Homo sapiens: one gene and its partners. The protein of the gene in region 4 purifies or fractionates together with the protein of the main gene of each other region. This does not show direct contact. Each region holds a gene or a part of one and is shown on either strand. Other genes may lie near its edges.

Region 1 (3,500 bases), on a different chromosome or scaffold from region 4:
TAGAGAGCGTCTGAGCGGGAGGGGTAGTGGCCTGAGCCAGGTCAGGGCTTTCGGGACACAGAGAGGAGGGCATGGGGCAAAGACTCAGGGGGCAGGAAGGCAGAGCTTGGGGCTTGATGAGGGTGATGAGGGAGAGAGGGGGTGCCGCCATCGGTGGATGGCTCCGGGACGTATGCTCTGCTGACTGGGACACAGTGGGGCTGTCCCTGAGATGGAGAGCTCAGGAGGGCAAGCAGGTTTGGGAAATGTCGCTGAGTGCAATGTGGGAATCTGTGCATATGAGCGGCCTAGGGGGACCGAGGGGCATGTGGGGACTGAGATTGGGAAAGGTCTGGACTAATGTCCAGAATCTGAGAGGTCCGAGTTGTAGCTGGTAATTGAAACTGGAAGTAGGTAAGACGTCACAGGGAAAACAACGTGTAAAGTCAGGGGAGTTGCAAACTGGCAATTCTATAGCCAATTGTGTGCGTGTGTTTGTGTGTGTGTGTGTTTAGAAGAGCATTTAAAAATATCTGTCTTCTGTCTCTCTCTCTTTTTTTTTTTTTTTTTTTTTTGAGACAGGGTCTTGCTCTGTTGTCCAGGCTGGAGTGGCACGATCATGGTTCACTGCAGCCTTGACCTGCTGGGCTCAAGCGATCCTCCCACATGAGCCTCCGGAGTAGCTGGGACCACAGGCATGCACCACCATGCCTGGCTAATTTTAAAATTTTTTGTAGAAACCGGGTCTCCCTTTGATACCAGACCAGGCTGGTATCCAACTCCTGGACTCAAGTGAGCCTCCCACCTCACTCTGCCTGCCAAAGTGCTGGAATTACAGGCGAGAGCCACCATACCCGGCTACCTCTTTTTTTTTTTTGAGACGGAGTCTCGCTCTATCACCCAGGCTGGAGTGCAGTAGTGCGATCTCGGCTCACTTCAACCTCTGCCTCCTGGGTTCAAGCGATTCTCCTGCCTCAGCCCCCCGAGTAGCTGGGATTACAGGCACCCACCATCACGCCTGGCTAATTTTTGTACTTTTAGTAGAGACAAGGTTTCACCATGTTGGCCAGGCTGATCTCGAACTCCTGACCTCAAGTGATCTGCCCACCTGGGCCTCCCAACGTGCTGGGATTACAGGTGTGAGCCACTGCTCCTGGCCCTGGCTACTTCTTTCTGTTGAGTTACTTGACTGGCCTCTGCACACATTGGGTTTGAGAATCATGTAGGGAAGGCTTGCACTGGGAACACCTACACTCAAGGGAGGTGAAAAGCAAGAGAAAGCCACAAACAAGTCAGGCATGAAGCAGCCGGGGCGGGGAGGAAGGCCAGAGGGGCAGGGGTATCCTGCCAAGGAGAGGGTTTCCAGAATGAGAGCCTTTCAGCTGTAGCCAGGGCCACTTGTGATACAGTCAGATGAAACCTGAATAAGGGCCGTTGTATATGGAGCCAGGCAGGAAATTGATGATTTTTATCAAGAACAATTTCAGGCCAGGCACAGTGACTCACAGCTGTAATCCCAGCAGTTTGAGAGGCCGAGGTGGGCTGATCACTTGAGGTCAGGAGTTTGAGACCAGCCTGGCCAATGTGGTAAAACCCCATCTCTACTAAAAATACAAAAACTAGCCAGGTACTGTGGCACATGCCTGTAATCCCAGCTACTCAGGATGCTGAGGCACGAGAGTCGCTTGAGCCCAGGTGGCAGAGGTTGCAGTGAGCTGAGATCGTACCACTGCATTCTAGCCTGGGAGACAGAGCGAGACTCCATCTCAAAACAAAACAAAACAAACAAACAAACAAAAAAACAATTTATTTCAGTTTCTGTGGCTCCACCGAGGAAAGAGTGTAGGAGGCAAGCTGTGCAGAAGGAATGGCTCCTAGCACTGAATGTCAGAATTTTCCACGATTTTGGAAACGTTCTATGTCTACATCCAATATGGCAGTCCTGGCCACAGGGGGCTACTGGGCACTTGGAATATGGCCATTGTACCTGAGAAACTGAATTTTTTTTTGAGGTGGAGTCTCGCTCTGTCGCCCAGGCTGGAGTGCAGTGGTGCAATCTTGGCTCACTGCAACCTCCGCCTCCCGGGTTCATGCCATTCTCCTGCCTCAGCCTCCCGAGTAGCTGGGACTACAGGCACCCGCCACCATGCCAAGCTGATTTTTGTATTTTTAGTAGAAACAGGGTTTCACCATGTTGGCCAGGCTGGTCTCAAAGTCCTGACCTCAGGTGATCCGCCCACCTTGGCCTCCCTAAGTTCTGGGATTACAGGCATGAACCACTGCACTTGACCTGAATTTTTTATTTGATTTAATTTTAACTTATTAGAACAGAAAGAGCTCCATGGCTACAAAGAACCCATGCAGCTATCACATTGGACAGTACAAGCTCCAGACTATTCCGTGAAGAGCTTTTATTTTATTATTATTATTTTTTTTTTTTTTTGAGGCAGAGTCTCATTCTGTTGCCCAGGCTGGAGTGCAGTGGCACAATCTCTGCTCATCACAACCTCCGTCTCCCAGGTTCAAGTGATTCTCCTGCCTCAGCCTCCTGAGTAGCTGGGACTACAGGCGCGTACCACCATGCCCGGCTAATTTTTGTATTTTTAGTAGAGATAAGGTTTCACTATGTTGGCCAGGCTGGTCTCGAACTCCTGACCTCATGATCCGCCCGCCTTGGCCTCCCAAAGTGCTGGGATTACAGTCATGAGCCACCATGCCCGGCCTTATTTCTTATTTTTAGTGACATGGTCTTGCTCTGTTGCCTAGCCTGAACTGCAGTGGTGTGATCATGGCTTATTGCAGCCTTGAACTCCTGAGCTCAAGTGATCCTCCTGCTACAGCCTCCTGAGTAGCTGGAACCACAGGCGTGCACCACCACACCTGGCTAATTAAAACAATTTTTTTTGTAGGGATGGGGTCTCGCTCTATTGCCCAGGCTGTTCTCAAACTCCTGGGCTCAAGCAGTCCTTCTGCCTTGACCTCCCAAAGTGCTTGGATTGTGCCCAGCCGTCCTTGAAGTTTTGCTCAGAAGAGCAAACTTTCTGGGAAGTAGCTGCAGGTGTTGGAAGTAGCTGCAGGGGAACTAGGGGATTCAAGGATGGAGCTGAAATGGGTGAACGGACAAAGTCGGTAAACTGAGGCATGCCAGGGCCCTGGAGGTAGACTCAGGAATGAAGAAGACACTTTATTGTAGTTCTCACTGTGCCAGGACCTGGCCTAAGTGTGTTTGGTTCATCCCATGTGTGGATCAGTTAGCCGTTCTTTTAGTGTCTTTACGGCTTTTGCCAAATCCTTGTAGCACCTCTGCTATCCCTTCTGTAAAATTGCTCTTAAATCTGCTCACTAGGTTTGTGTAAATACAGGTCTCCCCTGATATCTGAACTCCTGGAATCTGGAACAAAGAATTTAGATACATTTTTCTCCTTCTTTCTTCCTTTCTCTTTCTTTTCTTTTCTTTTCTCTCTCTCTTTCTTTCTTTCTCTCTTTCTCTTTCTTTCTCTCTCTTTCCCTCCCTCCCTCCC
Region 2 (3,500 bases), on a different chromosome or scaffold from region 4:
TTAGGATTTCTTTCTGTATTTTGATTTCCTGTTTTTTATTTTCTTACCACCTGGAAAATTTCTTCCAATCAAGACTTACCCTGTGCCCTGCTACAGCTTCTTGTATTACACCTGTCCCAGTCAGTCTTGAAAAGCAAGACAGATTTTTTTTTCATTTTGCTATTTTAAGCTACAACTGGCCACCACAGTCGTATTTATGAGACTTTACCTTAAAGCTTTTCACCCCATATCCTGTGCCTAGGTATATAAAGAACACAGAGGCCAGGGCTTGGTATCTGCCACTGAACAGAGCATCCCGGATTTTTATTTTTCCCCTGGTTGCTGTTTGAAGCTTTCATGTCTAGTTTTCCCTCATCTTCACTGAGTCACCTTTAAAAATAGCTTTCTAAGTGGAGCCACCCTGGTAGGATAAATATATATGTGTGTGTATATTAGAACATATACAGGAGAAATATGTGTGTGTGTGTATGCGTGCAAAAGAAAAAAATATATATGTATGTATTTTTCATTTTGGATAAAGCACTCATTCACTATTCATTGAATCTGGATTGCCAGTACAGTGATATGTGGGCTAAAAACTAGAGAAAAGATAGTAATCTAAATTCAAACCAAAAGAATATACAAATTCAAAATACTCACTAATTCAAAGGGGTTAGATAAATTCACAGAATCTTATATGGATTTATGAAATGGGAGTTAAGGTTCAGGCACACCTTGGACTTTAGAAGTTGGCTTCATGGAAGGCACGTTCTCTGCTATTTCACTTTCCTGGGTCCACTGTAAGACACCAAAGTCTATGTTGTATTGTTCTGACCAGGTGTATTTTTCCTCACCTTTCATATCACTAAATTACCTTTGAAAATTATAAAATAAACCCAGTAGCCCAGAATAGTTGAAATGATCCAAAATTCTTAAAACACTCATGAACAAAATCTAATCTAAGTGTGTAGTAGTACAGGTGGAACATCCAGAATGCTCCAACATCTGGTCATGATGTGAAGTGAAAGAAGCCAGGCACAGAAAGACAAACTTTGCATGTTCTCATTTATTTGTGGGAGCTAAAAATTAAAGCGATCACACTCATGGAGATGGAGAGTAGAAGGATGGTTACCAGAGGCTGGATGGAAAGTGAAGACGTAGGGGAGAAGAGGGGATGTTTAATGGATACAAAAAAAAAAATAGAACAAATAAGATCTAGTATTTGATAGCACAACAGGGTGACTGTAGTTAATAATAATTTAATTGTACCTTTTAAAATAACTAAAAGAGAACTGGGCACGGTAGCCCACACCTGTAATCCCAACACTTTGGGAGGCTGAGGCGGATGGATCACTTGAGGTCAGGAGTTCAGGACCAGCCTGGCCAACATGGTGAAACCCCGTCTCTACCAAAAATATAAAAGTTAGCTGGGCATCGTAGTGAACACCTGTAGTCCCAGCTACTCGGGAGGCTGAGGCAGGAGAATCACTTGAAGCCAGGAGGCAGAGGTTACGGTGAGCCAAGATCGCGCCACTGCACTCCAGCCTGGGTGACAGAGCAAGACTCCACCTCAAAAAATAAAATAACTAAAAGAGTATAATTGGATTGTTTGGAACACAAAGAATAAATGCTTTAGGTGTTGGATACCTCATTACCCTGATGTGATTATTACACATTCTATGCTGGTATCAAAATATCACATATATACCATGTTACCCACAAAAATTAAAAATTTTTTAAATCTCCAGAATCTGAAACTTTTAGAGCACCAACATGATGCTCAAAGGAAATTCTCATTGCAGCATTTTAGAATTTTGTATTCGGGATGCTCAACCTGTACATCAGAAGAAAATCTGAAACCCCAAACACTTAGGGTCCCAAGTGTTTCAGATAAGGGATGCTTAGCCTGTAATAATATTTCCTTAATCTCTGTGCTCAGTTGTGACATTGAAAGATCGTCTCCACTATTTTCTGAGTTATAAGAGTTTTCTGCATTATTTCTATGCTCTAAATTAACCATAATTGAGGAGTTGCACAGGTTAGGACTCTCCTATCAATTTAGAATTACAACTATTCTAAAAGAGCAGTTGGTCGTTATCACAATTTGATGTTTTTCTGATACTGTGGAAATTATAGGATATAGAGGAAAATGTCATTTTAAAGGACTGAATGGGAAATTGCCTTTAAACTAAGGCCTGTATCTTTAATAGACATATAGAGAAAAGAGCATGGAGCTCTGAAGTGACCAGACTAAAGCTTAATTCGAGTTCCAATTTGTTCAAACTGGCTGAGGAAACTTGAGCAAGACACCTGTCCTCTTAAGCTCTGTAAAATGGAACTAATAATCACTTGTGAAGAATAAACAAAAAAAAAAATCTCAGAGATGTTTAACCCACTGCCCAGCATTATAAAAACCTGCAAAAAATGTTTATTTTCCTCCCATTTACTTGGGGTTTAGGAACTGATGCTTTTCTTCTGCCTAATAGTCCCCACTTAAAGGGGACTCATGTTTACTTCCTCTCCCTCCCCCATTTTACTCATCACCCTGTTTGTTCTTCATTTAATTCAGTGATTTAATCCATTTCGTTTAACAACCCACATTTGGGTCAGGCACTGTGGTACACGCCTGGAATCCCAGCACTTTGGGAGGCCAAGGTGGCAGGATCGCTTAAGGCCAGGAAGTTGAGACCAGCCTGGGCAACATAGTGAGACCTCATCTCTACAAAAAATACAAAAATTAACCAGGTTTGATAGCACGCACTGTTGGTCTCAGCTACTCAGGAAGCTGAAGTGGTAGGATAGCTTGAACCTGGGAGGTCAAGGCTGCGATGAGCTGAGATCACACCACTGCATTCCAGTCTGGGTGACAGAGCAAGAGCCTGTCTCAAAACAAAACAACCCACATCCACGGCACTTGGAAATGTGCTGGAAGATAGTAGAGTCTCATTAAATATTGGTTGCCTGAATGAATTGGGCAATGTCACGTGTCTGTGCACTGGGTACATAGCAGTGAATAAGACAAGGCCCCTGCCACTGTGGAGCTCAGAGTCTTGTGGGGGAAAATAGCAGTTAAACAACAAAGGATAATCAAGTGTGAAACGCCTTGTGATAGAGAAAGAGCAGGGCACTCTGACCTCTACCACGGAGATGTGGGCTCAGTCAGGGAAAGAGACCTTCTTGAGTCAATGATGTGTGACCCAAACCCTAGACCCGAATTGATTAGTGTTTGACCAATGACAGCTCCAATCTCCATTATTCACTTACCCCACACCCAAAAAACATCAATACTTTTGAGGCCTCTGTAACATTGTTTCAGTGTAGTCTTACCCAGTATCCAAATGGAGTACCACTGTTTCCTCTTCTGTAAAATGAGGACAATAAAACTACCTACCTCATAAAGCCAGTTTAGAATACTTTTAATGCTATATAAGAATTAGACATTATTTTAACAGTAAATACCACAATCATGTCTTTGTAATAAAGGTGGCTTCTTCATGGAGCAGATCTGAAAAGATGGGTTA
Region 3 (3,500 bases), on a different chromosome or scaffold from region 4:
TTCTCCTTGCCCACTGCCTACACAGAGCTGATTTATCAAGACAGGGGAATTGCAATAGAGAAAGAGTTTAATTCACAAGGAACTGGTTGTGCGGATAAAACACAAGACCAGATGAGCCAGTTTATCAACCTAGGTACTGCCAACGGGGTGCTGCCAACCATCGAGGACAGGGTCTATAAAATATCTCAAGCACTGAACTTAGGTTTTATAATAGTGATGCCTAAGCCATAATTTCTAATCTTGTGGCTTATTTGTTAGTTTTGCAAAGGCAGTCCAGTCCTCAGGCAAGAAAGGGGCTTATTTGGGGAAAGGGCTGTTACCATCTTTGTTTCTTTTTACTTTTTTTTTTTTTTTTGACACAGGGACTCACTTTGTTATGCAGGCAGGAGTGAAGTGGCACAGTCTTGGCTCACCGTAGCTTTGAATTCCTCAGCCCCCCAAGTAACTGGGACTATAGGCATGTGCCACACATCAGGCTACTTTCTGTATTTTTAGTAGAGATGGGGTTTCACCAGTTCCAGGCTGGTCTGGAACTCCTGGGCTCAAGCAGTCTGCCCACCTCAGCCTCCCAAAGTGCTGGGATTACAAGCATGAATCACCACACCCGGCCGCGTCTGTTTCAAAGTCAGACTGTAAACCAAGTTCCTCCCAAAATTAGTTCGGCCTATGCCCAGGAATGGACAAGGACAGCTTGGAGATTAGAAGCCACATGGAGTCAGGTCAGATCTATTTCACTGTTATAATTTTCTCAGCTATAATTTTTGCAAAGTCAGCTTCAAAATCCCTCAGTAAATGGCAACTATTATAATTATTATCAGCAGCACCATAGGGAGAAGGACTGGATCAGTACATACCAAAAATCACAATAATCATATTGGGGTTGCGGATAATTTTTTTTCCGAAGTGTTGCAGTTGGAAATCCATGATGGATTTTGACCGCATGTATCTGAGCCTCTTCCCCTAGTCTCGCCCCGCTTCCGTACCCTGACTTCAGGGTTCTTTCCAGTTGCTCTGCCTGAGCTATACCATTCGTTCCCACACAGCACAGAATGTCTTCCTTGTCATGGAGGCTCTGTGCACAGTAGCGTGTTGTGAATGAGGCTGGTTGATATTATATTACACTTCTCTGAATAAAATGCCACCTTGATTTGCTCATTCTCAATCGGCAGGAGTCTTATTTCACCTCTGTAGGTCTTACTAAGTGTGTTTAGTTTTCAAAAGAAACCAGTGTTTCCCTAGTACTTAACATGGGTTTATTACATTTTTTTGACAAAAATTCAAAATTACATATATTTTGTTCTTCATTAGCAAGTCACACATTTTAAAATGGCACACTCCCTTCCTCTTCGTGTTGTTATTTGTTTATTTTAAGGACTGTTTCTGGGTAGATAAGCTCTGGGTTATTTTAAAATACATTTTACAATGGAAATGGCCTGGACTTGAACTGAAAAGGAAACATTATCTGTGTTATTTCAGACACATCAGTGATCAGTTTAGAAGATAGGATGATTTCACTAAGCTTATAATTCATCTTAAAGCTCACCTAAATAAAAGTAAGTGACTAAAATGATCTTTTTCTTCCAGGAGAGGTAGGATTAATTAATTGTATAATGTGTGGAATATTTCAGCGCTTATCTGATTCTTCCATCTTAAATCTTTGAGAGTTTTTAAAAAATTATGTGTCCATTACTGTTTATATCACATAGACATATTTTCATTTGTCTACTTAAAAATGTATTTTTAACAAAGTTTAAATAGCTGCTAGCTGTAATGTATAACTGCTGAGTTATAAGATGCTTTCCAGAATTATAAAGTCATAAACCATTGTGTGGAAACAATGAACCTTTCAGAACCAAAGAAAAGGTCAACACTATGAAAGGACTATCAAAATAATGCAAGTGTCCTATCTCTCCTTACCTGGCAGAAGCAGCATAAAGACATCAGACACTCCGTGTTTGTTCAGAGGTGGAAAAAGGCAGAAGAACAAGTTTCTTCCTAGGCAGGGGATTGTTTACTTGGCTTATTTAAATCACAGTTACTAGTCCTCACTCTTAAGTGACTGGAAAAATGGGACACGTCTTCTCCATAGTTAGCAATAGCATGTAAAAAGCAATTGTGCTTAATTCCTCATAATGTGTTTTTTTTTTAAAAAAAAAAAAAAAGGCATCTTCCCTTTGTGGCTGGCAGCAGCATTCTCATTCAGAAAAGCCGCATCTCTAAGAGCCCCAGACCCCTCACATAAATCCCCTTGTTCCTGGATGATCAAGGTCCGGCTGCTTTTTCTCGCTTTCCAATGAGATGCAGACAGACTGGGAAAGAAGGGAGTTTATTTCTGCAACTGGTGACAGGAAGATGGTGGGAGTGACTCACCAGACCAACTCAAAGTTACAAGTTTTTCTTCAGTGTTTATTTACATTCAATTCAACCTCTATGCCTGTGTGAGAGTGTGCACCTACAAGCAGGAGTGTTTCATTCAGTCTAATCTTTAGGGTCTGGGGTCTGGAAAGTCTCTAGAGCCTTGGAAAATTTTCTTTAATCTTAAGTGGCCTTGATACAAGGTATATGTGTAAGAATGCCTTCGATCAGATGTTAGGGTCTGAGAAAGTCCAGGCGAGGTCTTAATGTATTTGTTTTCACATTCCAGGCCTTGTACTCAGGCACCAGTTTCTCCAGCTTGAATGTTTAACTTATGCATTCATCAGAATTACAGGAAAGGGTTAGTGGAAACTGGCTGCTCTGGTTGCTGATGACAACCTGTTGCCACACCCTGGTGCTGGGCATTGAGGGAACCACTAGAAGAGAAGAGAATCCTGGAGGGTTAGGTCCTAAACATCTGAAAGGCAATGGTAACTTGCTGAAGGGTTTTTCCTACTCGCAGAATGACCCCGTCAGATTAGCTTTCCAGAAGAGTCATTTCAGCTGCAATGTATCAAGAGTGGTCACCTTTTGTTCCGTAATGAGACACTGAGGTGGGATTGCAGTAAGCCCCGAAACTCAAGCACTGGGATGTGTGGCTTGGCCCTTTAGAAGTTTGTGTAGGTAGCAACATTGGCCCCTGTGGAGGAAAGTGATGGGCTCGAAAGCAGGAGGAGAGGCGGTGCCTTGCAGCACTGTGCAGGGTGAGCCAAAGAGGGGCAAGCCCAGCCAGCACTCGAACCAGAGCTTTGGCACTGAAGGAATGGGGAAGTGGATGCCAAAGAGGGCGTGGTACACAAACCTGTAGAGTTTTTCCAGTTCTGTTGCTGTTTCTTTAAAATATGTGTGCATTTGGGTGAATTTACTAAGAAGCTTACATCAATTAAAATTTTGGTAACTATGCTCTTAGAAATGTTTTCTTTGTACAGCTTATCCTTTCGGTCATCCCTGTAGCAGCTGTCAGTAAAGTATTAATATTGAAATAAACATAATTAACCTTATATTATTTAGTACCATTCTAGGTTAAAGGTAAATATAGGCTGGGTGCAGTGGCTCACACTTGTAATTCCAGCACTTTGGGAGGC
Region 4 (3,500 bases):
GATGCTCATATATATTGTGAGCCTCTAGCCCATGTAAGTCACAGCAAGCTAGCTCTTGGGTTTTTTTTGAGATGGAGTTTCACTCTGTCACCCAAGCTGGAGTGCAGTGGCACGATCTCGGCTCACTGCAACCTCCACCCTCCGGGTTCAAATGATTCTCCTTCCTCAGCCTCCTGAGTAGCTGGGACTATAGGTGCCTGCCACCGCGCCTGGCTAATTTTTTGTATTTTTAGTAGAGATGGGGTTTCACCATCTTGGCCAGGCTGGTCTTGAACTCCTGACCTCGTGATCCACCCGCCTCGGCCTCCCAAAGTGCTGGGATTACAGGCATGAGCCACCGCGCCCGGCCACTCTTGTGTTTTTTAAACATGACCACATTAGTCTTTTAGTCCTTATTTGCTTTAGGCACAAGAAATCTGAGGCTTACCTTATATTTGTCTTGTTCCAAATTTGGATTATCAGCTAATTCTCCAAGGAGCCCTATACCTTTTAAGGGGAGTGGGATTTATTTAATTTTTTCTTTGGAGTCCTTCTAGCCAGTGAATGGAATTTATTATAGAATCCATTGTTACTGAGCTGTCATTGTTTCTAGGCCATTTTAGTGGACATAGCTAGGAAATACAATTTTAAAAGATCATGAATTCAAATTAATATTTACAACTAAAATTTAGCAACATGGCCAGGTGCAGTGGCTCATCCCTGTAATTCCAGCACTTTGGGAGTCTGAGGTGGGAGGATCACTTAAGGCCAGGGGTTCAAGACCAGCCTGGGCAACAGAGTGAGATCCTGTCTCTACAAAAAAAAAAAAAAAGATAAATTTTTTCGAAAAGTTTTATATGAAAAGTGTACTCTGAAAAAATCTAGCTGTCATACCTATCCCTCCATTCCTAACCATCTCTTATAAGTAATTATTATCCATCTCTTATAAGTAATTATTATAAGTATTTTCTTAGTTTTCCAATTTATCTTTCATGTGTTTCTTTTTAAAAAGCAAACAAATATGCATATTGCTGTACTTACTGTGCCTCTTTCACAACATGGGGTCTTTATAAAATTTCTTTGGATGTTTAGAAAGGTTTGTATGCTCTAATTTATACTGATAACATTTTATATAATGCATTTAGAGTCCCCAATTTGCTTGTCTAGGCCTCTACTATTTAATTTGACACCTTTAAATGATGTTCTTTGACTCTTATCTAATTGTCTATGTGACCGTCAGTGAATATATTATCTGTTCATATTTTCTGTAGTCTTATTTCTTTTTGATTAGAACATATAATATTTACACACTATTTTCCCATCCTAATCCCCACCTTTGTAATAAAATTAATTAAAATTTTAAAAAAGTATATTTAATAACCTACTGATACTTACCTGAAGTCTCTCTGGTCAACTTTTGGCTGGATGAAGCTCTTCTGTAGAGTATTCAAGGAGGGCTTGTAAGTACTGTACAATATTCTCTGAGTTGTGACATGTTTAAAATTTCTTCTGGAGCCTAGATACTTAAAGTACACCTTGGCCATGTAGAAAATCCTTGACAAACATTTCCTTTTCTTGAGTTTGTCTGAATTTGTGCTTCACTGTTGGGTTGCTTGATGTTATCATCAAGAAGTGTGGCACCACTTGATTTTTTTCCCTTTTGGAAATGACATTTTGTTTGTTGTTTTTTACCTAGAGACCCAGATAATTTTTTCTATATTATTTTATCTATGATCCTTTTTATCTCATTTTTGTTCTCATAGCTGTTTTATTCCTCTTCTCTGTATTTCTTACTTTACTTTTATTTGTGTCTCTCAGGTACCCTGTGATTTAGTTTTCATTTTTAGATGATTTTATCTTTTCAGTATATTGCCTATGTTTGTTCAACTCTCATTTTACATCTTACTATTGAGTTTAAAAATTTTTATTTGCTGTGTTCTTTTATATGTGCAATTAATGATATTCATGTTGGAGTGTTGTATATTATTTGCCTCTGCTTCATATTGTCTAGAGGGTAGTATTTTCTATTGATTGAAAAGTTTTCATTTTCTGTTTTTTATAATAGCCTTGTATGGATTTTTGGTGGCTTTTCTATTCATGATTAAATGTGTAGGATCTTCTTCAATCAGCAATAACAGGTGGCTCTATAGAATGGAGGGTAGAAGGGATGTGGGTGACTTACTCAGTTTTTAGTTAAAGAGGACCCTCTTCTGTTAGCATGGTGAAGTGCAGTTTCTTTAATAAATTGTGCATGGTGGGGGTGGGATTTGGATTCTGTGATACAATCTTGTTTCTTTAGGAATCTTTTACTTTTGGCCACTTGCCTTTCTTTCCAAGGAATCCCACTCCCTTTCAAGGTGCCTCATGAACTGTTTTCATGAACTTTCCAAACATTGGTTTCTGCTTGTTTCTAAGCCTGATTCTTGGCCTTCTCATTAATTTTCAAAACTTCCAATATCCTTCCAAATAATTCCCTTTTGCTTACGTTAGCGAGTACTAGTTTGTTAGCCAGTGTTAGTTTCTGTTGATCCTAACCAAAAAACCCTAACTGAGATATCAGTCTCTTAGCGCAAAGTTTGTGAATACGGTCATCCCTCCATATGAGGAGGGGAGTGGGAATTGGTTGTGGGACTTCCGTGGATATCCAAATCAGTGGATGCTAAAGTCCCTTACATAAAATGGCATAGTATTTGGTTATCATCCTCCCCATACATCATCTCTAGATTATTTATAGTACTTAATACAATGTAATGCTGTGTAGTCATACTGTATTTTTTACTTGTATTTTTGTTGTTTTGTGGGATTTAAAAAATATTTTTATTCTGAGGATAGTTGAATCCACAGGATACTGAGGGCCAGCTGTATTCACAACCCAAATCACATACAAAGCGACAAGTTCATACACAATAGGCCTATTAGAACAGGACTGTTCTCTCTTGTTTATCATTGCAGCCTTTCTAGCACAAAGCCTGGGACATTCTGGACATTTAGTATGTGTTAAATTTCTCTTACTACATTATTTCCAACAGTATTTACTGCAATCTGCAATTACCTTCCTTTTGTTTTGTAACTGTGTCCCCCACTAGAATGTAAGCTCTGTGCAGATAGTGTCTCATTTATTGATGTATCCCTGGCATCTAATAAAACACTGACAACACAAGCACCCAGTAAATATTTTTTGAATGACTGAACAATAACCAGTTCATAAGGCTGATAAAATTGGTATAGCTAGATGAAGTATGATTTTGAGGGACTATGAAAATCAAAGTAACCACACAATAAATTATCAGCCCTCTACTTCCATTCAAAACAAGCTCCTGGGAATTGAATTATGAAATCTATCATATTACTTTCTCTAAAGAACTTCAAGTTGGGTGTCAACTAAAAAGTTGCAGGCGAGGCGCGGTGGCTCAAACCTGTAATCCCAGCACTTTGGTAGAACTGAGTATCTCTTGAGGCCAGGTTTGAAACCAGCCTGGTCAACATAACCAGACTCTGTCTTTACAAAAGAAAAATTAAAA

Evidence for each region. Proteins that work in one complex are often made in the same cells at the same time.
Region 1: the proteins of SLC35A3 (region 4) and TRPM4 purify together in Homo sapiens (affinity purification with mass spectrometry; one large-scale study listed by BioGRID and IntAct). This does not show direct contact.
Region 2: the proteins of SLC35A3 (region 4) and JPH1 purify together in Homo sapiens (affinity purification with mass spectrometry; one large-scale study listed by BioGRID and IntAct). This does not show direct contact.
Region 3: the proteins of SLC35A3 (region 4) and LRP11 purify together in Homo sapiens (affinity purification with mass spectrometry; one large-scale study listed by BioGRID and IntAct). This does not show direct contact.

Annotation. Positions count from the first base shown.
Region 1 is NC_000019.10:49,160,792-49,164,291, forward strand, and holds part of TRPM4 (transient receptor potential cation channel subfamily M member 4), read left to right. Parts: intron 1-3,500. UniProt on the Homo sapiens protein: Calcium-activated selective cation channel that mediates membrane depolarization. While it is activated by increase in intracellular Ca(2+), it is impermeable to it.
Region 2 is NC_000008.11:74,238,041-74,241,540, reverse strand, and holds part of JPH1 (junctophilin-1), read left to right. Parts: intron 1-3,500. UniProt on the Homo sapiens protein: Junctophilins contribute to the formation of junctional membrane complexes (JMCs) which link the plasma membrane with the endoplasmic or sarcoplasmic reticulum in excitable cells.
Region 3 is NC_000006.12:149,854,360-149,857,859, reverse strand, and holds part of LRP11 (low-density lipoprotein receptor-related protein 11 isoform 1 precursor), read left to right. Parts: intron 1-3,500.
Region 4 is NC_000001.11:100,032,496-100,035,995, forward strand, and holds the end of SLC35A3 (UDP-N-acetylglucosamine transporter), read left to right. Parts: 3' UTR 1-3,139; downstream 3,140-3,500. UniProt on the Homo sapiens protein: Transports diphosphate-N-acetylglucosamine (UDP-GlcNAc) from the cytosol into the lumen of the Golgi apparatus, functioning as an antiporter that exchanges UDP-N-acetyl-alpha-D-glucosamine for UMP.